Linked DNA regions of Homo sapiens. The protein of the gene in region 1 purifies or fractionates together with the protein of each later gene. This does not show direct contact. Each region holds a gene or a part of one and is shown on either strand. Other genes may lie near its edges.

Region 1 (3,500 bases):
CCCACAATGCGGGCTTCTGTGATAACAGTTGTTTGTGTCAGCAGTAGGCACTTGCTTGCAGATCAGCATGTTGAAGACTGGGACCACCTCTGAGTGTACCCTGGGCTGGGCATGGCAGAGACAGAACCAACAGGGACTCCATCATGAAGACCCTTTGGCTCAGGACCTTTGGAGAGAATTGCTTTTTCCATCCTCAGGCATTAGCAATGGGGAGACAAATGTGCCCTGCCTCTGGGCTGTGGGGTGGTCTCTGCCCAGTAGACTTGGGCATAGTTGTAGGGCTGTCCCCATAGGAAGGGCTCAGCAAAGGCATATCCCCAGGAGAGCCCTAAAGACCTTCAAGAGGAGATCCCACAATGAGGCTTTTCTTGGTGCCTAGAAAAATAAGTAATACAAATACAAATCGTAACAAGAACTCTGAAGATGTTATTAACAAAGGCCTGAGTGCAGAAAGAAGGAGGATCTTGCATGTACCTATGCGCACACCAAAGCACCTGTCTGTCAAGGCCCACGCAGTCTTAAGCACATACACACAGTCAACTACACACACTGACGGCACACTCACACATTCACAGACAATTTAAGATTAGTCTCAGATGAGCACACACTAACACACTCATCCAGTGGTGAGCTTGGGAGAGTGAGGAGGAATTCCGGCCTTTGAGCCATGCTTGTTTGGTGTCAGGAGGGACTTGGGATTCAGGGGCTCAGCCACTGCCCTGTCTGCCCACCACCTAGTTTCAGCAGACAAACCCCCATTTTGGAGATCCCTGGAGGCAGGCTGGGGATGAGAGGAATGATGCAGCCCCCTGTGTCCTGCCCAGGTCAGCATCGGCTGCCCAGAGAAGATGGAGCCCATCACCAAGATCTCGCATATCCCAGCCAGCCGCTGGGCTCTGTCCTGCAGCCTCTGCAAGGAATGCACAGGCACCTGCATCCAGGTATGTGGCCTACTTCACCTCCTGCTGCCAGGAGCTGGCTGAGAGGCATGCTTGGGGCCTCAGACAGCAGCTGCCACCACCTTCTCCCCTCCATGGGGCTGCAGACTGATGGGCCCCAGAGGGGTGTGGGACTGGGGCCAGAGTCAGAATCGCACCTGTTGGGGAGCATTTCTCCATCCCCTGGTCTTCTAGGGAGTGGGAACAGACCCGGGGAACCAAGGCTCACCACCCCATTGGAGTGCTGAGAACTCTGGCTTTCCCTGAAAGCAAGTGTCTTGGGGCTTGATGAATACATTAGCCTCACTTCTGACATTGAATTTGACGCGTTAGGGGTTAGGAATCAAACTTCTCATCTAGCTAAGCTAATAGACTGTCCTGACACTGGAAGGGCTGTACCAGTCTGTCTTTAGCAAAGCCTATTCCCAAAGTCTAGCATGCGTCAGAATTACCTGGAGGGCTTGGTAAACATAGACTGCTGGGCCTACTCCTGAGAGGCTCTGACTCAGTAGGTCTGGAGTGAAGCTGAGAACTTGCATTTCTAACAAGCTCCCAAGGGATGTTGATGCCTCAGGTCTATAGTTTGGGAGTGCAGGGGGGAGTCATCCTTTGTCCCCCTCATCTTTTAGGAACAGAGTTGTCATTGTAAACGTTAGTTGTGCCTTCACCCATCCACGGACCTTCAAAAGGATTTGTGAGTGCAGCATCAGCAGTCATAATAGTTGGGTGCGTGATTGCTGACACAGTTATCATCATCCAAGGCTAAGAGAGAGGGTCAGGCCTCAAGCTGTCTGGATGAAAGGAGAGGGAAGGGGACTAAGTCCAGCCCCTCTTCCCAGAGGACAAAAAGGGGACCACAGTCCCCATCTTAGATGAGCCAGTGACCCATCATCAGCCTTTCTCTTGATGCTCTGTGATGCCAAAGTCATTTTGCCCACACAAAAATGCAGCTTGAGGCCAGGCACGGTGGCTCACGCCTGTAATCCCAGCACTTTGGGAGGCCGAGGCAGGTGGATCACCTGAGGTCAGGAGTTCGAGACCAGCCTGGCCAACATGGCGAAACCTCATCTCTAAAAATACAAAAACTAGGTGGTGCATGCCTGTAGCCCTAGCTACTTGGGAGGCTGAGGCAGGAGAATCGCTTGAACCTGGGAAGCGGAGGTTGCGGTGAGATGGAACCACTGCACTCCAGCCTAGCAACAGAGTGAGACTCTGTCTCAAAAAAAAAAAAATGCAGCTTGTCCCCAGAGGTGTTTCTCAACCGTCTTCTGATTGACTTCCCCAAAGCATGTGGTGTTGAATGGGTTACCTTTCCAGGCACCCCAGAGCTCCTCCTCCTCCCCTGCCGTAACTCCCATCCTGCACAGGAGGTTGGGAGCCCATGCCATTCTGTTTAGGTTCTCTCCAGCATTGCGCATTCTCAGTAGAGCCCTGGGGGAAGCCCCTCTGTCTTCTCCCCTCCCACCAGGCTCCCTCCATGTCTGATCCTGCCCCTCCTTTCCCCTCAGTGTTCCATGCCTTCCTGCGTCACAGCGTTCCATGTCACATGCGCCTTTGACCACGGCCTGGAAATGCGGACTATATTAGCAGACAACGATGAGGTCAAGTTCAAGTCATTCTGCCAGGAGCACAGTGACGGGGGCCCACGTAATGAGCCCACATCTGAGCCCACGGAACCCAGCCAGGCTGGCGAGGACCTGGAAAAGGTGACCCTGCGCAAGCAGCGGCTGCAGCAGCTAGAGGAGGACTTCTACGAGCTGGTGGAGCCGGCTGAGGTGGCTGAGCGGCTGGACCTGGCTGAGGCACTGGTCGACTTCATCTACCAGTACTGGAAGCTGAAGAGGAAAGCCAATGCCAACCAGCCGCTGCTGACCCCCAAGACCGACGAGGTGGACAACCTGGCCCAGCAGGAGCAGGACGTCCTCTACCGCCGCCTGAAGCTCTTCACCCATCTGCGGCAGGACCTAGAGAGGGTGAGTCCCCATGCCGCCTGCCCACCCCCTGCCTGGTGGGTCCAGGAGTCCTTTCCATGCCACACTCACTGCCCTGGAGCAGCTAGGACTCACCAGGACTCAAACTGTGAGCTCTGGTGGACCGGCCCTGCTGCAGGAGCCTGCCAAGGGGCTGAGGGCTTTCAGGTCCCAAAGAGTATGGGGGTGACTGACACTTTACAGAACAGAGAAGAGTCCAGTTCTTGAGTCTCCGAGTCCCTCTTGTCCTAGCCCTGTCACAGGCCTGGTGAATGGTGGGGGCCCTGCCAAGGTCATGAGGCTGAGAGCACCAGAGCTAGGGCGAGGACCTAGGCTTCTGGCACTTGCTTGCCTCTGTGGGCCCCGCCTGGTCCTAACACATGAGCTTGCATTGAGAATCTGAGGCAGAGGAGGAACTGGAGCTTCCCAAGCTGTCCCCGTAACCCATGCTGAAAGCCAGGGGCATCAAGAGCCAGGAGCAGCCAAACAGGCACGTGCCGGGCCAGGGCAGGGTAGATGGGTAAACGCGGCTCCGTGGGGTGCTGGGCAAACAGAACAGAGGCACGAAGGAGACAGGGTGGACTCAAGGAAC
Region 2 (3,500 bases), on another chromosome or scaffold:
AAGAAAGAATGAGACAAATGCAGTGGCTAGGAATGCACGTCATGGAAGAGGAAGCCCTTGAAAAGGTGAGATTTGAAGGCCGGGCACGGTGGCTTATGCCACTTTGGGAGGCTGAGGCAGGCGGATCACGAGGTCAGGAGTTCGAGACTAGCCTTGCCCACATAGTGAAACCCTGTCTCTACTAAAAATGCAAAATTAGCTGACCGTGATGGTGGGCGCCTGTAATCCCAGCTACTCGGGAGGCTGAGGCAGGAGAATTGCTTGAACCTGGGAGGCGGAGGTTGCAGTGAGCTGAGATCATGCCATTGCACTCCAGCCTGGGCAACAGAGTGAGACTTCATCTCAAAAAAAAAAAAAAAAAAGGTGAGATTTCAGGCATGAGCAGGACTGGCCTTCTGACACACTCCTGTCTCAAGAGCTACCCTTCAATTTTGTGGTCACTTTCCAAGGGGTTAGGGCTTGATTTAAATATACAGGCTTTAAAACATACACACTTACGCGCACACACAGACAATCACAGCGCCTGCAGCCATCCTGTGGTGAACACACACACTCTTGTATCAGAGTGCTCTCTGGTCTGCAGTCATTTTATAGTTTAATCACCAGACCAAGTTATTTCACTTCTGGAAAAAGTAATTTATATCCACTCTTTTACTGCCAAGAAACTGAATTTGACGCCACTGACAAAGAACAACTCTAGTATGATGGCCACGACTGGGGCCCCTGGCTGAGACCATACCATGTTCTCTGATGTTAGCCTGGTAACTTCATGACGGATGCTTTCATTGATGTCATTTTCTTCTCTGAATAACTTCTGCAGGTGGTTGATTTCTTGACTGAGATGCACCACTTTGAAGTTCAAAGCTTCAATCTCCTTTTCATAGCAATCCTTCTGAGACTGGAAATGGCTCTCCAAAACACTATTAAAGGAGGGGTCAAGAAATAAACCACATGGCCTTTGTTCTGTTTTATGGACTGCTGGGAGGCAGTTATGAAGACCCACAACAAGAGCCGTGCACGAAGTACATCAAGTTTACTTATGCACTCACGGTTACAGGCTACAGAATCAGGAATGCCTAATTATAAAATCTTCTAGCTAGTTAGGAAGCATTATGTGGGGGTTAATATGTAGTTAACAATGAAGAAAATTTTAGAAGTTATTATATTTTTACACTCTTAATAGTTTAAAAAATACTGGCCAGACGCAGTGGCTCACACCTGTAATCCCAGGATTTTGGGAGGCCGAGGTGGGCGGATCACTTGAGGTCAGGAGTTTGAGACCAGCCTAGACAACATGGTGAAATCCCGTCTCTACTAAAAATACAAAAATTAGCCAGGTGTGGTAGCGCATGCCTGTAGTTCCAGCTACTTGGGAGGCTGAGGCACGCAAATCGCTTGAAACCTGGAGGTGGAGGTTGCGGTGAGCCAAGATCTTGCCACTGCACTCCAGCCTGGGTAACAGAGCGAGACTCCATCTCAGAAACAAAACAAAACAAAACATGTTCTGTATGATACTACAGTTGTGGATACGAGTCATTATACATTTGTCAAAACCTACAGAATGTACACCAAGAGTGAACTCTAATGTAAACTATAGACTTGAGGTGACAGTGGCGTGTCAGTGTTGGTTCACCAGTCATAGTAAACACATCACTGTGGTTTGGGAAGTTGACAGTGGGGGAGGTTGTGTGTGTGTGGTGGCAGGGATATATGGGAACTCTCTGTATTTCTGCTCAACTTTGATGTGAACCTAAAACTGCTGTGAAAAATAAAGTTTATTAATTTAAATAAATGCAGCACATGCCTTAAATTTAAATGTATCTACATATTTCTGGCAACATTAACTAACTTATTTGATAATCAGTTTTCACTGTATGGGTTATGGGGTTTTTTACTAGGCATTTTATCCCACAAAGAGATTGCTCTTCATGAATAAGCTACTTACTTACTTCTCAGAGAAATATTTCTAGTGGTTATTCAGTCATTCTACTATAAGGAATTTGTGTATCAATCTATGTAAGGTAAACTTTGGACTTTCCAATAGTCTATTTATTATCTCTGAAAAATAAAGAAGATCCCTGAGGAGAATTTCTAACCGTGTTGCTTTCTTTAGTCCTTCATAAGCAAACCAAAGTTCTCCATCCTCATTTAAATGTTCCAGATCTTCCACAGAGAGCCTGCAAAATAAGGAAGATAAGAAAATCTATCATCTCTGTCACGTTTTACATGTTTACATGTCTTAAAATGTTTGATAATGCAAAAATGATTACCTGCTTCTTACATCTTCAATGTCATAGCTTTCGAGAAGTTGTTTGGTGATCTCTGACATCTTTTCTGAAAGGGAAAGGCAGAGTTGTATATATTACATTTGTGGATGATTTATCTTTTCCCATTCCCTTTCCAGGGCCCAGTTTTCTAGCTTCACAGTCTCCAGCTAAATAACTCACCAGCTATCCAATCAACCAACTAACCAATCTTCCAGGTATTCAACCAACTAGCTATTCAACCTATCAACTAAGCAATCTACCATATGTCCAACCAAATTCATACCAAAGGACACGTTTCCTTAGCAGCGACACAGCTATGATAAATTCAGTCTGCACCCATGGACTAAGAGACTCATATTTTTATTACCTCTCATTTCCCGTTTTTGTGACTGCACATGTTTCTCCACATCTATCTTCTGTGCCTGAAGTAGTTCTATCTCTTTTTCGAACTCAGAGATTGTCTGAATCACAGCAATGACGGAATCAGGTAAAGAAAAAACAACGATTATGCTTTATATAAGACAAAGGGAACACAATTACAGCGTTGCGTGTCTATGCAAGACATCCTCACTGCAGTTTCTTTCTTAGCTAAAATCTTGTTAAACCATCACTGCCTACACAGCTTGGCCTTGAAGCATGCTTAACTACTCAAAATGCCAGATCTAATGGGTTGTATCAGTAGAATTAACTTCCCTGGGCCAGGCATGGTGGCTCACACCTGTAATCCCAGCACTTTGGGAGGCTGAGGCAGGTGGATCACCTGAGTTCAGGAGTTTGAGACCAGCCTGACCAACATGGTAAAATCCCATCTCTACTAAAAATACAAAAATTAGCCAGGCATGGTGGCAGACGCCTGTAATCCTAGCTACTTGGGAGGCTGAGGCAGGAGAATCGCTTGAACCCGGGAGGCAGAGGTTTTAGTGAGCTGAGACTGCACCATTGCACTCCAGCCTGGGGAACAAGAGCAAAACTCCACCTCGAAAAAAAAAAAAATTAACTTCCCTGTTACATAAAGAAAAAAAAATACCTACTATAAGCTTGGGGTGGGGTGGGACAGGGGGAAGACTGAGAAAGGTAAAATCACGGGCTAAAATTCTCTTTTAATGGATAATAAAATATTGAGTGCAAGGACATGGGCAAAGTTGCCACCTTCATAACTGTGGGTTTTGGCTTCAGCTCAGCTTAGATGTGGAGCAGTGGCAGAGACTGGTGAGTCCAGGAGGTCTGGGAGTT
Region 3 (3,515 bases), on another chromosome or scaffold:
TGTGTTACTAAAAGGCAAAATAAAAGTAATGACTTTATTCTAAGGTTCCTCTTAGTTTTTACATACTCGGTATTCTATCTCTAACACAAAGTAGCCGTTTTAGGTTGCTTTGCATATGAAATGAAGGTACTAATGAATACACAGAAATTAAGTACCTTAGGTATCTGGTCTAATTGCCCTCCCCACCTTATAGTGAAAACAGGCCCAGAAAAACTGACCAGCCCAAGGATGAGGCCAGTTCCTTTGTCTCCCAAAGTCTAAGTGAAAATGGGAGATTCATTTGTGCAATCTATTAGATTACATTTAAACCTATTTTGGGACTGATAAAATTGACAGATGCTCTTTCTCTCCAAACCCCTAATACTTATCACAAAATGATATGACAGAATCAACTAAACAAGGTCATGGGTTATGTCTGACGATAGTTCTCTAGGGAAAATGGAAAGAAATAAAATAACACTTGGCTAAAATGATATCATTTTTAAATGATTACTAACCAGTTGTTACAAAAATCACCTCTTGGTTTTATTTCTTTTTATATTAGTTTGATACGTGAATGTTAGTCCAACTTAATTTTTGAAGGAGAAACAAAATGAAAAATGTTTTTTAAAAAACAAACAGTGGTATCTCTTGTCATGAGTTGGATGCCTGTGACTGACATCAGGTATTGCCAAGTAATAAACATTTTGCCATTCAACTCTAAATCCCTTATTAGCATTAGTTTTAAAGGAAATGTTACAGCTTTTATATTATTTGATTTGGTATTTAATAACAGTTATAAGTACAATGGTAGACACTGAAAAAGAAAACCCTTAATAGAAAAGAAAAAGACAATTTAAAATTAGATTTTGTTGAAGGGTGTTATAAGTGCAACTTTATCCATATGCATTCCTTTTAAGGCATTTTCATTGTCCAAATATCTCAACATGTACATCAAGGTTTATATTATAAAATGGGCTCCTTTTGTATTCATTCAAGACTTAAAGAAAAAATACATCTCAGGACTAAGTGTAGCTGAAAAGAAAAACACAAAAATTCACCACTCACAAAAAGTAACTTAAAATACAAAAGTCATTTAGTATACATTATTACTCCCCATTGTAATTCCAGATTTGGTACAGTATCTTTTTCATTTCCTGACATAAACCATTAAGACAGCACAGGCTGTAGTACTTCATTGTGAGGTGGCTACAACTCTATAATATGCACAGTGATTTTAAAATAGGCTTTTTGCATGCCTTGCATGAAAGGTGCTACATACAAACCTGTTTTGTGAACTCTTTGGTAACCACCAATTTAAAAATTTGGATGAAAGCATTTCCACATGGACAGATCTGAAGCACATTATTGGAGCTCTGAGCCAAAGCTATTACCCTGTATATTGATTCTTCAGTTTCCTTGAGGGGTTAGGTGTTGATTTAGAATACAGCCAGATAATTTAAAGCATGTCAGGCCCCGGTTAGGAAAATGAAAATGGCTCCGATTCGTTTCCAGTTGGCTTTATTATTGTTTGGCAGAAGTTGTTTAGGGGAGAAGAGTGGCTTCCTACAAAGTTTGCTTCTCAAGGTATACTGGAGAAAGTAAAATATTCATGTGGTTACTACTGTCTAGTCGTTTCTTGAAATGGTATGAAAAAAGTGTGATGAATATAATTGAGATTATTCATATTTTTGTAGTCTCAATGTGTTCCCTTGGTTGTCTCTTTAATTGTCCCTTCTCAGGGTCAGCCTACTCAGATTCAGTACTTTACACGTTGTTTTCAGCATTTTCTGCTTGAAGCACTAATGCACTTAACCCAGCATGTTCTGTATTTTAGGATATTAGTGTTCTGGAGAGGTCAAGCTGTAATGTCATTCGCCCTCATTGGGCTACATCACCACCCATTAAATTTCAGCTTTTCAGTAATTGTTCTGGGATGTGTTCTAGTTGTGCAAATTAGATGCTAGCTAATATAAATCTAAGTTACCCACTAACTGTATTTAGCCATAACATAATTTCTATGTTTACTTTTATCCACCTAAAAATGAATGTACATTTTTTGACATGCAATTGTCTCTAGACTGCTCTGATACCTATTACCAATGTGCTACTTGAATCCAGGGAGTTATGAGAGAGAGAGATGTTTCAAAGTCTACGGAAAAGGTTTTAGATATTTCTGTTGTGCATTATTTTTGTATGTTAGTAAGAATCCTTTGTATTTCCATTTACATAGCACCTTTCATCCAAGATTTTCAAAATGATTTAACGTTAACAGCATTTGGTGGTAAAACCTAAGTTACCGGTGGCATTGAAGTACGTAAGTAAGCTCAAGTTCTCTAAGTTCCATTTCAATTTAAACATGCTCTCTTTTTTATTGATGGTCTTTTGGAAATTAGACTGTGAACACAACATTGCTACTGGCCTACGAAAGAGAGAGAGAAAGAGGGAGAGAGAAAGAGAGAGAGAGAGAGAGAGAGAGAGAGACTTTTCTTATGGTTACTGGGTTAGTGATGAAACCCACAACTCATAAACCACACACTATGGAATATGGAATTATTCCAAAAAGTTCTTCAGAGCTGGTAATGAAAGCCTAAGAAGTACACTGTTAAAATTTTAAAAAGTCAGTATGTTTCTCATTTCAGACCTTGAAGATTACTCTGATATTGATGTTAAATAATGAATTTGCATTAATGAGTATCAATGCATTTTTTGATTTCATAAGAAAATAAAACTGTGATATAAAATTGGAACTACTAAAAAAATTGATGTTTCCCTGGGTTAACTAAATCTATTTTTTTGTGCTTCTTCCAAATGTTTAAAGGTAACAAATGCATACAAATATTTCAAAAGTACCAATAACAGTTATCAACTTTAATGTAATATCATAAAGGAGAAAAAAATCATTAATAAATGATAGCCTTAATTATAAATGAGTTTCTGGCAAAATGCAGATCATAGTAACTTATTTACATTATTTTTGCCATAAGAAAACTTCTTAAGCAACAGTCAGCTCTCAAGTTAAAAAAATGCACACGCATACATAACCCAATACCAAAGAAAAGAAATGAGTTAAAGCACAACAGCTTTATCTTGGGAATGCCATTTGCTGAAAAACCATCTTACTAAAAAAAAGTTTCAGAAAAACACTCTTTACCATGGGTTAACTTATGAATGCTTAGTGTTGCTTAATGGGAAATATGGAAAGATTAATATCACTATAAATTTTTTATAACTCCTATTTCATTATGGATTTTTCAGATTTATCTTATAAACTGAATTTCTTTTGCATCAAAATAATTGGCTTTAAGAAAAAAAAAGTATCAACACATGCAGTCTGCTAACCAAATAAGGCTCTGACATGCCAAAACAATTTTCTCTGTATCTTGCTATATAGTACATTCCACAAAATACTACAGCATTTAATTTAGGTTTACACAACTAAATATAAATGGCTAGATTTTGGCTAACACTTAGCAGAAGCATTAAGCAAACATGGATAAATTCATAAAACAAATGATGAAAAAAGCAGATTGTTC
Region 4 (3,500 bases), on another chromosome or scaffold:
CTATGGCTACAACAGTAAGAGCCTAGAACATCTTGCTGTGGCCAGAAGTAAATAAAAATGATGATGATGTGTTAAAAGGACAGAGGAGCTTCTAGAAAGGAGTTCCCCTCTGCCTAAATTTGGAACAATTTAAGCATCAAAATAAATACTAATAGCAATGGATTATAACCATAAAATAATCTATGAGTTTAAACAAAATGAATAAACAAATAGGAAGAAGAAAAAGCTTCTCCTTACAATAGAATGCCAATTAATAAATGGCAAAGAAATGATAGAATTAGAAAATAATGTTTGGCCACCAACAAAGTAAATGATTCAGGCAAAAATCATCTCTGGATGCTAAATGTGGTAGATAAAAGTTTGATGAAAAACAGGTTATCTGCATTTCTGTCTCAAAGTATGTCCCCCCAAGATACTTAATTATAGGTAGAAAGCAATGTTAGAGAAGAAACATGGATACCACCTAAACCAGGTGGTCACTGTTAGCAGCACTTGTGATGAGAACTTGGATATTACATGCCTTCTGATGTGACACACTGAGGAGGACACAGCACACCTGTGGAATTTTCTAATCATGAAAAATAAAACAAGCTCAAAGTGATGACATTCTATAAATGACCTGTGCACTTCAAAACTGTCAAGGTCATGAAAGATAAAGACTGAGGAACTGTTCCCAATTGGAAGGAGACTAGAGAGACGTGACAACTAAATTAGATAATAGTACTTAATTTGTGTTAAATTCCTGATTTGATGATTGGACCATGGTCATGTATGAGAACATTTCTGTTTTTAGGAAATACACACAAAAAATTAGGAGTAAAGGGATATTAACACATTATGTCTGCAACTTACTCGGGAGGAGAAAAAAAAATTCTTTCAGTCAGGAAGAACATAACTACTGCCTCCTTTCAGTTCCCACTGAAGTCCATGTAGATTTCTACTAGAGTACCTATAATAACTCACTAGCATGAAAGGAAACAAGCTTTGAGGGCAACCTGCCCAAAGGAGAAGTTAGTAAATGACAGATCAAGACTTGAACCCAGATCCACCTGAATCAAAGCCAATATTTTGTTAAATCATAATACAGCAGAATGCTGAGTAAATGCGTGCTGAGTATTTGTACTGCTGTTTTATTTTTCCAAAAGTACTCACATAATGACCGACATCAACAGTCTATTCACCACCACTGGGTCTCTTAATATGAAGAGTTTTCCCTAGAACCCTCGGCATCAGCCTTAGAATTTTTTTTTTTTTTTGAGATGGAGTCTCACTCTGTTGCCCAGGCTGGAGTGGTGTGGCACGATCTCGGCTCACTGCAACCTCCACCTCCCGGATTCAAGTGATTCTTCTGCCTCAGCCTCCCGAGTAGCTGGGACCACAGGCGTGTGCCACCGGCTAATTTTTGTATTTTTAGTAGAGACGGGGTTTCACCATGCTGGCCAGGCTGGTCTCGAATTCCTGACCTCAAGTGATCCACCCGCCTCGGCCTCCCAATGTGCTGGGATTACAGGGGTGAGCCACCGTGCCCAGCCTAGAAATTCTTCTTTTCAAGATAAAAGAGAACTTGGCTTACATGGTACATTTGTTGGTGGCAAAGAAGGAAAAGACAAAAAATAAATGAACATAATCTGGAAGAGCCTTTATGATCTAGCCCCTGCACTTTTCCAACCTCACCTCCTGCCATTCTCCACACCCTATATTCTTTATCCTGAGCCATTTTAATTCCCACAATTAAGCATGTTTTCCCCTATCTTCAAGTCTATTCCACCTTCACTTCTGTTCCTTCTGATTATATAAGAACCAACTCCCTACATATCCCTTTAAGGGATATGTACAACTCCTACATATCCTTTAAGGCCCCTCAATGAATCCTCCTCTGACCTCCCCAGGCAGAAGTAGAAGCTGGCTTCCCTATTCTCCCAAAACATCAAGTATTCTATAATTGAACTTTTCATATTAATGACATTACTTATTCACAAATCTCTCCTATAGTTCAGGGAAAGAATTCAGTCATTCACTGGCATCTCCAGCATGTGGCACATAGACTCTGTCTATATATTTACGATCTTGCCATGTGTCACAAAGAATTGCAATTTTTTTTTTTTTGGAAGACAGGGTCTCACTCTGTCACCCAGGCTGGAGTACAGTGGCATGATCTCAGGTCACTGCAACCTCCATTTCCCCAGCTCAAGCAATTCTCCTGCCTCAGCCTCCTAAATAGCTGTGACTACAGGTGTGCACCAACATACCTGGCTAATTTTTCTATTTTTTTTTTGAGATGGGGTTTTGCCATTTTGCCCCAGCTGGTCTCAAACTCCCAGACTCAAGCAATCCACCCACCTTGGCAAAGTGCTAGGATTACAGGCATGAAATACTTCTTGAATTAATAAATATAGGTGTTTTATCACTCATGAGAAGCTTGTTTTTTGTTTGTTTTTGGTCAAATCCCAAATTCTTCTTCATACAGTAAGACAAAAAATAAACCAAGCTTATTTAATATTGATAGTCAAAGCCATGTGCTTATCTGCAAAACCAAAGCAGTTATCATGGGTTTGAAAGGAATATTATAAACAGCAGAACTACATATACACACAAACCACAACTATTCTGAGATTAGGCAAACTGCTGTTACTGCTTAACCCACAATGTAATTAATCTGCTGTTTCTCAGCCATGAACAAGTTGCTTGATTGTCTAACCTGAATATCCAACTTTACCTGCAGTGCTTGTTCTTGGATATCACGAAATAATTCCATATCTTTCTCAGTCATGATTTCCTGGCTCCCAAAAAGTCGCTCCTCATTTTCTTGTTTGCCATCCCAGCCATCCTGATTGTCTACATATAAAAAAAGAGCTCACATGTTAACTGTCCCCAGATTAATACATGAACTAGAAAAAATTTCAGGTCTTTATTTCAATTTGAAGAACTTAATATATAACGAAGAATATAGCATTAAACTGACTCTTAGAAGAATGCTACTCAATAAATAATATTTATGTATTAAATCTGCCTTATAGTGGAAATCCTGAATTGTCTTAAAGCTTCCTAAAAATATTATATAACTAAATTTAAACTTCATTAAAGATTACATTTTAATACACAGAAAGGCAGACAGAAAAATGATATAAGGAATATAAATTTCATTTTGAAATAGTATAAATTTGACACTTTTAGTATAGGTTTAATGCATCAACGTTCAAAAAAACCTCTTGAGTAGCTACCTTAACTGATGTCAGCAGTACTAACTCCCATCACATTCTGGGTGCCCTTTTAAAGTTAAAGCACAAACTTTAAAACACTGTCCTTTTAAAGCACAAACTCTATTTACCCAGATGATAATCATCTGGGTAAATATGAAAACGTATGATAATTATCTACTAAATGATGGAACTTCCTCAAGTTGGCAAAAAACTAGTGAAGAGAGTATTTGGGACTTATGAAGATCATTATCCTTTGCATTTGAAGATGACACTGCTGTTGGGCTCATTTGCTCTCTTTAT
Region 5 (4,004 bases), on another chromosome or scaffold:
GGTACACTGTAGAGAACTAGGAGACTGAAAGCCAGATCACTTAGTTACGTCTTTTACTAATTGATACGTGAAAGTCCATGAGAGCTTATGAAGCACATTAAAATTATTAAACTTCCTCATCTACTTTCTAATACTCATGCTATTTACCTTTCATTCATGCTATGCCTCACATCTGACAGTTTCCACCCAATCTTCAAAAGCAGTGTGTGAAATAAACACATGCTATAATAGCAATGACATAATATCCACTCTACTCAGAAGCCTAAGTGTGGCTAGTAAGCAAAACTTCCTCTGCCGACCGTGTCATGACCATCAGCCATTCCCTAAATTCCTCTTTTAATGTTAAAATCTTCCTCTGTCTCTCTCTTTTCTTTTCTTTTTTTTTTTTTTTAAACCATCACTTCACCACTCCAACCTTTAACTCTCAGTAGAAGTTCTCGGAAAAGAAAAAACATGTGCATTATCCTTTCCTTCTTAAAAACATAAAATACTGTCCAAATTCATTCTGATAAATGTGTAAAGAACTTATGAATGGCCGGGCGCGGTGGCTCACGCCTGTAATCCCAGCACTTTGGGAGGCCGAGGCGGGCAGATCACAAGGTCAAGAGTTCGAGACCATCCTGGCTAACACGGTGAAACCCCGTCTCTACTAAATATACAAAAAATTAGCGGGGCGTGGTGGCAGGCGCCTGTAGTCCCAGCTACTCCGGAGGCTGAGGCAGGACAATGGCGTGAACCCGGGAGGCGGAGCTTGCAGTGAGCCGAGATGGCGCCACTGCACTCCAGCCTGGGCGACAGACTGAGACTCCGTCTCAAAAAAAAAAAAAAAAAAAAAAAGAACTTATGAGTAAGAAAAAAATGGAGTGTTTTATTTCAAGGCTATGCCAAAAAATCTAGGGTATACAAGTAAGACAGGAAGAATGCACTTTAAAAAAAAAAAAACACAAAAAACCTTCTTGGGGCCCCATAGAACTAAGACTGTTCGAACACAACTAATTTCCATTTGCTATTTCCACCTTCTGTCCATATAGGAGGGGCCCTCATATGCTCTACCCTGAATTTCCTTGGTACCTCCAACCCCAAACATACTTGGTTCGTTGGTCTTCATTTCCTATTTCCCACATCTGTAATTCTTTATCACTACCCCTTCACAACTTCTGTCTAACACTCTCTTTAACACGTCCCAACACCTTCTACCAATTACAGGGCTTAAACTCCTTCATGGGGCATAGGACACCATTTGTAATCTAACCCCTCCTCTGCCTTTGCCTGGTCATCTCCTACCACTCCCTGCACTCTGCCCACAGCAAAGTACTAGCAAATTCAAAGCTATGCAAAATGTCCTATCCCAAGGTATGGTGCATGTCTCTTCCTGGGATACCCTGCTGCCGGACACTCCCTTGAAGACTCCAGATCAAGTTTAACATAATGAATCCAGCGTATCACGGGTCGCCATAGCTCACGTCTGTAATCCCATCAGTCAGGCAGAGGTGGGCAGATCACTTGAGGCCAGGAGTTCGAGACCAGCCTGGGCAACATAGTGAGACCCTTTTCTCATTTTTATAAAAAATAATAAATACAGCCTATCAAACAACTTGTCTCCCAAACTAACACCTTTCTCTGCCCCATCCTCACCCCTGGCACAGTCCACCAAATCACATTCACCGAAAATTACTGTACAGCTCCACCCACTTTCTTCACACCTGCCGCCTTGTCCCACCCCTACCAATCCCTTGTCCCCAGGAGATTTTCTGCCACAGATTTTGCAAGTTCTAAGCAGCCTCTCTCCCCTTCCTTCATATTTAAGTTTGCTCTGCTGTCTTAGCATCATCTTTCAGAAACTCTCCCAAGCACAACCATCCCATCCTTCCACGTTTTTAAAAAATACTTCATACCCCAAAGCTAGCAAACCTCCTTCTTATTCCAACATGCGATCCACCCAGATACCTCTTTCCCATCACTGCAATCGTACCTGCTCCTCACATGCGCCTCAATGCCTCCCCAAACCCCTCAACGCCTCCCCAAACCCAACACTCTGCACCGCTTCAACTCTACTCCACATCCACCACACCCAAACCCACCTACTCTGCGCCCAGACAACTGCAATCTCGCCTTCGGTATCATCTCACCTGCCCTCACACACCCCTCGGTCCGCCTTCCACTTCTCTCAAATTGCATCCCTCCCTAACTCTCCCTCTGCACCTGCTTCTACACCTTCAGCTTCTCCTCCCACCCAACCCTCACTAGTCTTCCTCACACCCTCGCCGGCCCCCCACCGCTCCTACCAGTTCACTCCCACTCAGAAATTCCCTCTCAGCCCCCGCCTTCCGACTCCCCGAACCCCGCCCCCACCCGATCCCGCCCCGCCCCCCTCCGCCCTCGAGCCCCGCCCCCTTGCCCTAGAGCCCTGCCGAGGGGCGGGGCCTGTCCCTCCTCCCCTTTCCCCCGCCCCCTACCGTCACGCTCAGGGGCAGCCTGACCCCGAGCGGCCCCGCGGTGACCCTCGCGCAGAGGCCTGTGGGAGGGGCGTCGCAAGCCCCTGAATCCCCCCCCGTCTGTTCCCCCCTCCCGCCCAGTCTCCTCCCCCTGGGAACGCGCGGGGTGGGTGACAGACCTGGCTGCGCGCCACCGCCACCGCGCCTGCCGGGGGCGCTGCCGCTGCCTGAGAAACTGCGGCTGCCGCCTGGAGGAGGTGCCGTCGCCTCCGCCACCGCTGCCGCCGCCGCCAGGGGTAGGAGCTAAGCCGCCGCCATTTTGTGTCCCCCTGTTGTTGTCGTTGACATGAATCCGACATGACACTGATTACAGCCCAATGGAGTCTCATTAAACCCGAGTCGCGGTCCCGCCCCGCCGCTGCTCCATTGGAGGAGACCAAAGACACTTAAGGCCACCCGTTGGCCTACGGGTCTGTCTGTCACCCACTCACTAACCACTCTGCAGCCCATTGGGGCAGGTTCCTGCCGGTCATCTCGCTTCCACATAAACACACCCCTCGACCCATCATCCCCCCCTCCGGCACCACCCCGGGGGAGGGTCCACTGCCAATACCAATCAACAGACCGCTGGGTCCGCCTCTTCCGGGCACCTATTGGTCCAGCCCTTTTTCTCTCTCCTAGATACCGCGCCACCTCTACTTCCACCTACCCGCCCCCTCCACCTCTAGGAAAGGATTGGGTCTACTCGCAGCAGAGGAGCGTAGCCTTATTGGCTGCAGACGACGCCAATCAGGAGGCCTTTTCCCTCTCCCCTCCCCCACTCAACCCCAAACCCCCTAGCCCGCAGCTAAAGTTTGTGTGAGAGCTGATCGCTGGCGGCGGCCGCAGGATTTAGGGGTGGGCGCGGGCGGGCGCGCGCGGGCGGGCACGCGAAGTTAAAATTCGAGGTTCTCAGTCGCCAGCTCCTTCGGTGGAGTGTGCGGACGGGCGCGCCGCCCGGAGCGTTCCATCCCGCCCCCTCCTCCACCCTCTCTCCCGTCCCGTCCCGTCCCGGGCGACTACTCGCCCGCCCCCTGGCTCGCATCCTTCCCCCCCCAACACACCCCTACCCTGCCAGCCCCAGGCCGGGTGCAGGCAGAACGATGTCGCTGCAGCCTCCTCGCCATCCCATGCCTCGGGGGAGCAAGCCCCTACCCACCGGGCGTGCACCCCCCGGCTCCACACTCGCCCGTGTCTGCAAGCACGTGCACCGCTCGCCGCTGCCTCCGGCCACCCGGGTCCCCGGCTAACCTCGCCTGCAGCCCGGCCAATCGCTCGCTGCCCTTTGTTGCTGCAGCCTGGGTCTCCCCGCTGCCTTCCTCAGCCTCCGCCTCGTCCTTTGCCAGCCGCCCGGGTCCGCAGCGCCGCGCTCCCCCCGCCCGGGACCCACCGCCGCCGCCTCCTTCTCCTCCTCCGCCTCCTCCTCCTCGGCTCCGGGCTGCAGCGCACAGAGCCCGAGGCAGCGCCGCCCAGCCCCGCTCCCCCCGCGCCGCCCGCCAGCCCGCCCGGCCTGGCCGGGGGCGCAGCCCG
Region 6 (3,500 bases), on another chromosome or scaffold:
GAGAAAGTTCACGAGTACAACGTCCTGCTGGAGACCCTGAGCAGGACCGAAGGTGCCCCCCGCCCCCACCCCCTCCTGCCCTCTGCCCCACCCCCTCCTGCCCCCCACCCCTCCTGCACCTGAGGCTCGTTGTGCTCAGTGGGCAGCCTCAGCTCCCCTCAGGAACACAGCAGGGGCAGGGAGGCGGCACCAGACGCCCTCCCAGGGTTCCACCGGACTTGTGAGTGGGGAGGTTGCTGTGCAGGCAGGCTCTGGGAGTCGCCTGCCTGCATTGGATGAACCAAGTCTCACCGGCGCCTGCCCCCACTATGGGCACAGCTGCTGCCTTTGTCAGACCTGAGCTTCGCTGATGGGTCCTTCATTCTGGACTCGTGACCCTCCCCAAATGTGTGACTTTCCCACCCCACAAAGCTGGAGTAAAATGGAGGGTGACCCAGCAGAGAGGGGGCAGGGCAGGGGTCCAGAGTCAGCCCCCAGGGGACCTGGTGCCCCAGCTGTCACCGCCAGGCGCCACTTGGTGCGCGTGTCCCGGCGTCTCGCCTGTCTCGCCTGGAAAGGAAGCTGTGCCAACGGTCGTTTCTGCGGCGCTGCAGGACCGCGGAAGGGGGACATTTTCAGCCCAGAAATGAGAGCGAGTTTGAGCTCCCCAGCAGTGGGCGTTCTAGACAGTGGTCTGGGCAGGCAGTGCGAGGACTCCCAGCCTCATGGCGTCCTGCCTTCGGTTTTACAGAAATCCACGAGAACGTCATTAGCCCCTCGGACCTGAGCGACATCAAGGGCAGCGTCCTGCACAGCAGGCACACGGAGCTGAAGGAGAAGCTGCGCAGCATCAACCAGGGCCTGGACCGCCTGCGCAGGGTCAGCCACCAGGGCTACAGCACTGAGGCTGGTGAGTGCCCGCCCGGGACTGTTGGTTCCCGAGGGTGGGGCCGTCTCTGGTTGTGTTTTGGGGACAAGCAGGCAGGTGCTTGTAGCGACGGGAACCTGGGCCTGTGGACGCAGCGGAGACCCTCGGCGCGCTCAGTCTACCCACGGGTGGTCACAGGCCTCGCTCCCAGGAGCTGCTCCGTGAAGGTCACTCGCCGTCCCCAGCCTTGTACCTGGAGACTAGCAGAGGGCAGTGGCGGCAGCGGGCCTGGGAGCAGCCCTTCCCAGCGTCTCCCCAGCCTCAGCAGCACGGCCCCTCCCGTGCTGCTGTTGGCCAAGAACAGAGACCACTCGTCAAACATAGCTCCGTCTCCATCTCATGCCACCCACACCGTCCATCAGTCCCCCTCAGCCCGGCAGGGGCAGGACGCCCGCTGAGGCCACAGAGCTTGTGGCTCCGTCTCAGCAGCTCATCTCCCTCCACTGCAGGCCCTCAGTGGCCAGGCTCTGCACCACTGCTTCTTGCCCCGTACCCGGGCCAGAGCCTTGTGCAGGGTGTACCAGAAGCCTGCTGGCCTCACTCACGCAGCTTCCGATTCTGTACCTCATCCTCCACGTGCACACTGAGCACCAGCTGCACGCCAGGCACTGCTCTAGGCTCGAGGAGACAGCAGCCGCCAGGAGATGGCATCTGTGCCCTCATGGTGATAAGACAGCAGGGCTGGTCTCTGTCCCCGGTGCCAGGCAGAGCCACCGCCTCGTCTCCAGGATGGTCTGCCCAGAGGCAGCCTCCAGCACAGCAGTCAAATGTGTCCACGCGGGCCCAGGTCCCCTTGGGTGGCTGTGCTGCTGTCACCTGAGTGCCCTTGGGCAAGACCCCTCACCACCCACCCCCAAACCCAGGCTCCCTTAGCCTGACCTGGTGCTGGTGACTGTCAGCCGTAGGCTTTTGGCCGTAGTGCTGGGGGCTGGACCACCTTGTAGGCCTGCGATGCAGTTTGCTGAGTTCCTGTGCTGGAGAGACCCGGATGAGCCTGGCTATAGTCCATGCAGGAAAGGGCGACTCAGCCCCACACACTTCTCTTCCCACCTCGGGCTGTCCCCAAGGCAGTTGTGTCCAGCGGCTCCTGCAGTTCTCTTGCGGGTCTGCCTGGGCCTTCCAGCAAGCCCCACCAGCCCAGGGTCCTCGGGGTCCTGAGCAGGAAGGGGTCAGCAGAGGAGGGAGCAGGGGCCACTGTTGCGGGGCTCCATGGGCAGGCGGCTCTGGACTACTCACTCCTGGTTGGAGAGTGGTGACAGCCCCGGAGTCTCTCACTGCGTCCCTTCGTGAGCACCAGGGTCCAGGAGCCGTCTTGGTTTGTTTGGCTCCTCCCAGGAGCCCGAATGTTTGACTTTCACGAGCACAACATCCTGCTGGAGACCCTGAGCAGGACCGAAGGGAAACGGCCTGTGCCTGCGTCTGGACCTGGCTGAACTTGCAGGTGCCCCCACCCGAGGTCCTGGCAGCCTCTGCACACAGGCCACGTCCATCCTCTGCCTCCTGCTTCAGAGGCAGCCAGGGCGGGCTGTGGCGCTTCCCAGGCTCTGATGGAGGCAGGTGTTTCTGGACACAAAGGAGAAGCAGTTGTTTGGCCAAGGGGACAGAGAAGCCACATTTCAGCGAGGTCATGTGAGCTACTGAGCAGATGCCCTCTGTGCCCCATAAGACTTTGAGTGCACGCACCCGTGTTTCACACACATGCAGGTCGCGCCTGCAAACCCTCATAGGCTCCACGCACACTCAGCGTGGTTGCCGCGGGGCTGGCTGTGGTGTGCACCCCGGGTGCTGCTGAGGCCACTCTTGCTCCTCCCCTGCAGAGTTCGAGGAGCCCAGGGTGATTGACCTGTGGGACCTGGCGCAGTCCGCCAACCTCACGGACAAGGAGCTGGAGGCGTTCCGGGTAAGGAAACACGGCCCTCTCCTTCTAGCTCTCTCCTGTGGTGAAGATTCTCTTGCAGTTTCCGGGTAAGGAAATGCAGCCCTCTCCTCCAAGCTCTCTCTCTCAAGATTCTCGCAGTTTCTTCCTTAACCACTCGGTGAACCTGCTTGCGTTTTCCTTCTCATCTGCGTGGGAACTCGTGTTTCAGGGGCGGGGCCAGGCTCTGGAGGGAGGGGCTTTGGTTCTTTTGTCCGTGTTCACGTCTGAGCGTGGCCTTGGTGCGGGTCCTGTGGATGGTCAACAGTTGGTCGGGACCCAGCCACAGCCTGGGGGGAGGGGACCAAGGACACTACCGGGATCGTTTAGGGGTGTCACCACTTCCTGAGATGGAGGCCCAGGGAGGGAAGGAGACCACCTCAGGTGGCAGGGGCTCCTGGGGCGTGTGGAGTGCCAGATCATTCTGAGGGTGGAGAATTCATCAGCTCGGTGAGCACCCAGCAGGGCTGTGAGGAGTGGGGAGTCCATCGGGGGTCCTGGGTGGGCAGCCTTGAGTATGGTATCCGGCCATGAGTTCACCCAGGGTCCCTATAGCTGGTGTCTGTTGGGAGGGAGGTGGGTGTGGTCCTGCCCTCATAGGACTTGGGACTTTCCTGGCCCCAGGAAGGGCCCTTAGCACCTCCCCCAGAAAGGGGTCAGGAGCTTCCCTCTGGGGCT

What was found.
Region 2: the proteins of JADE2 (region 1) and MYO5C purify together in Homo sapiens (affinity purification with mass spectrometry; 3 studies listed by BioGRID and IntAct, with this or other methods). This does not show direct contact.
Region 3: the proteins of JADE2 (region 1) and CCDC88A purify together in Homo sapiens (affinity purification with mass spectrometry; 3 studies listed by BioGRID and IntAct, with this or other methods). This does not show direct contact.
Region 4: the proteins of JADE2 (region 1) and KAT6A purify together in Homo sapiens (affinity purification with mass spectrometry, with the first as the bait; one large-scale study listed by BioGRID). This does not show direct contact.
Region 5: the proteins of JADE2 (region 1) and KAT6B purify together in Homo sapiens (affinity purification with mass spectrometry, with the first as the bait; one large-scale study listed by BioGRID). This does not show direct contact.
Region 6: the proteins of JADE2 (region 1) and LRPAP1 purify together in Homo sapiens (affinity purification with mass spectrometry; one large-scale study listed by BioGRID and IntAct). This does not show direct contact.

The regions. Positions count from the first base shown.
Region 1 is NC_000005.10:134,563,670-134,567,169, forward strand, and holds part of JADE2 (E3 ubiquitin-protein ligase Jade-2), read left to right. Parts: intron 1-824; coding exon 825-941; intron 942-2,446; coding exon 2,447-2,911; intron 2,912-3,500. UniProt on the Homo sapiens protein: Scaffold subunit of some HBO1 complexes, which have a histone H4 acetyltransferase activity. Acts as an E3 ubiquitin-protein ligase mediating the ubiquitination and subsequent proteasomal degradation of target protein histone demethylase KDM1A.
Region 2 is NC_000015.10:52,222,805-52,226,304, forward strand, and holds part of MYO5C (unconventional myosin-Vc), read right to left. Parts: intron 2,755-3,500; exon of another isoform or gene 2,729-2,754; coding exon 2,635-2,728; exon of another isoform or gene 2,405-2,634; intron 2,335-2,404; coding exon 2,271-2,334; intron 2,178-2,270; coding exon 2,097-2,177; intron 921-2,096; coding exon 740-920; intron 1-739. UniProt on the Homo sapiens protein: May be involved in transferrin trafficking. Likely to power actin-based membrane trafficking in many physiologically crucial tissues.
Region 3 is NC_000002.12:55,287,342-55,290,856, forward strand, and holds the end of CCDC88A (girdin), read right to left. Parts: 3' UTR 501-3,515; downstream 1-500. UniProt on the Homo sapiens protein: Bifunctional modulator of guanine nucleotide-binding proteins (G proteins). Acts as a non-receptor guanine nucleotide exchange factor which binds to and activates guanine nucleotide-binding protein G(i) alpha subunits.
Region 4 is NC_000008.11:41,971,988-41,975,487, forward strand, and holds part of KAT6A (histone acetyltransferase KAT6A), read right to left. Parts: intron 2,836-3,500; coding exon 2,717-2,835; intron 1-2,716. UniProt on the Homo sapiens protein: Histone acetyltransferase that acetylates lysine residues in histone H3 and histone H4 (in vitro). Component of the MOZ/MORF complex which has a histone H3 acetyltransferase activity. May act as a transcriptional coactivator for RUNX1 and RUNX2.
Region 5 is NC_000010.11:74,825,396-74,829,399, reverse strand, and holds the start of KAT6B (histone acetyltransferase KAT6B), read right to left. Parts: upstream 2,801-4,004; 5' UTR 2,615-2,800; intron 1-2,614. UniProt on the Homo sapiens protein: Histone acetyltransferase which may be involved in both positive and negative regulation of transcription. Required for RUNX2-dependent transcriptional activation. May be involved in cerebral cortex development.
Region 6 is NC_000004.12:3,515,423-3,518,922, reverse strand, and holds part of LRPAP1 (alpha-2-macroglobulin receptor-associated protein precursor), read left to right. Parts: coding exon 1-52; intron 53-730; coding exon 731-889; intron 890-2,724; coding exon 2,725-2,807; intron 2,808-3,500. UniProt on the Homo sapiens protein: Molecular chaperone for LDL receptor-related proteins that may regulate their ligand binding activity along the secretory pathway.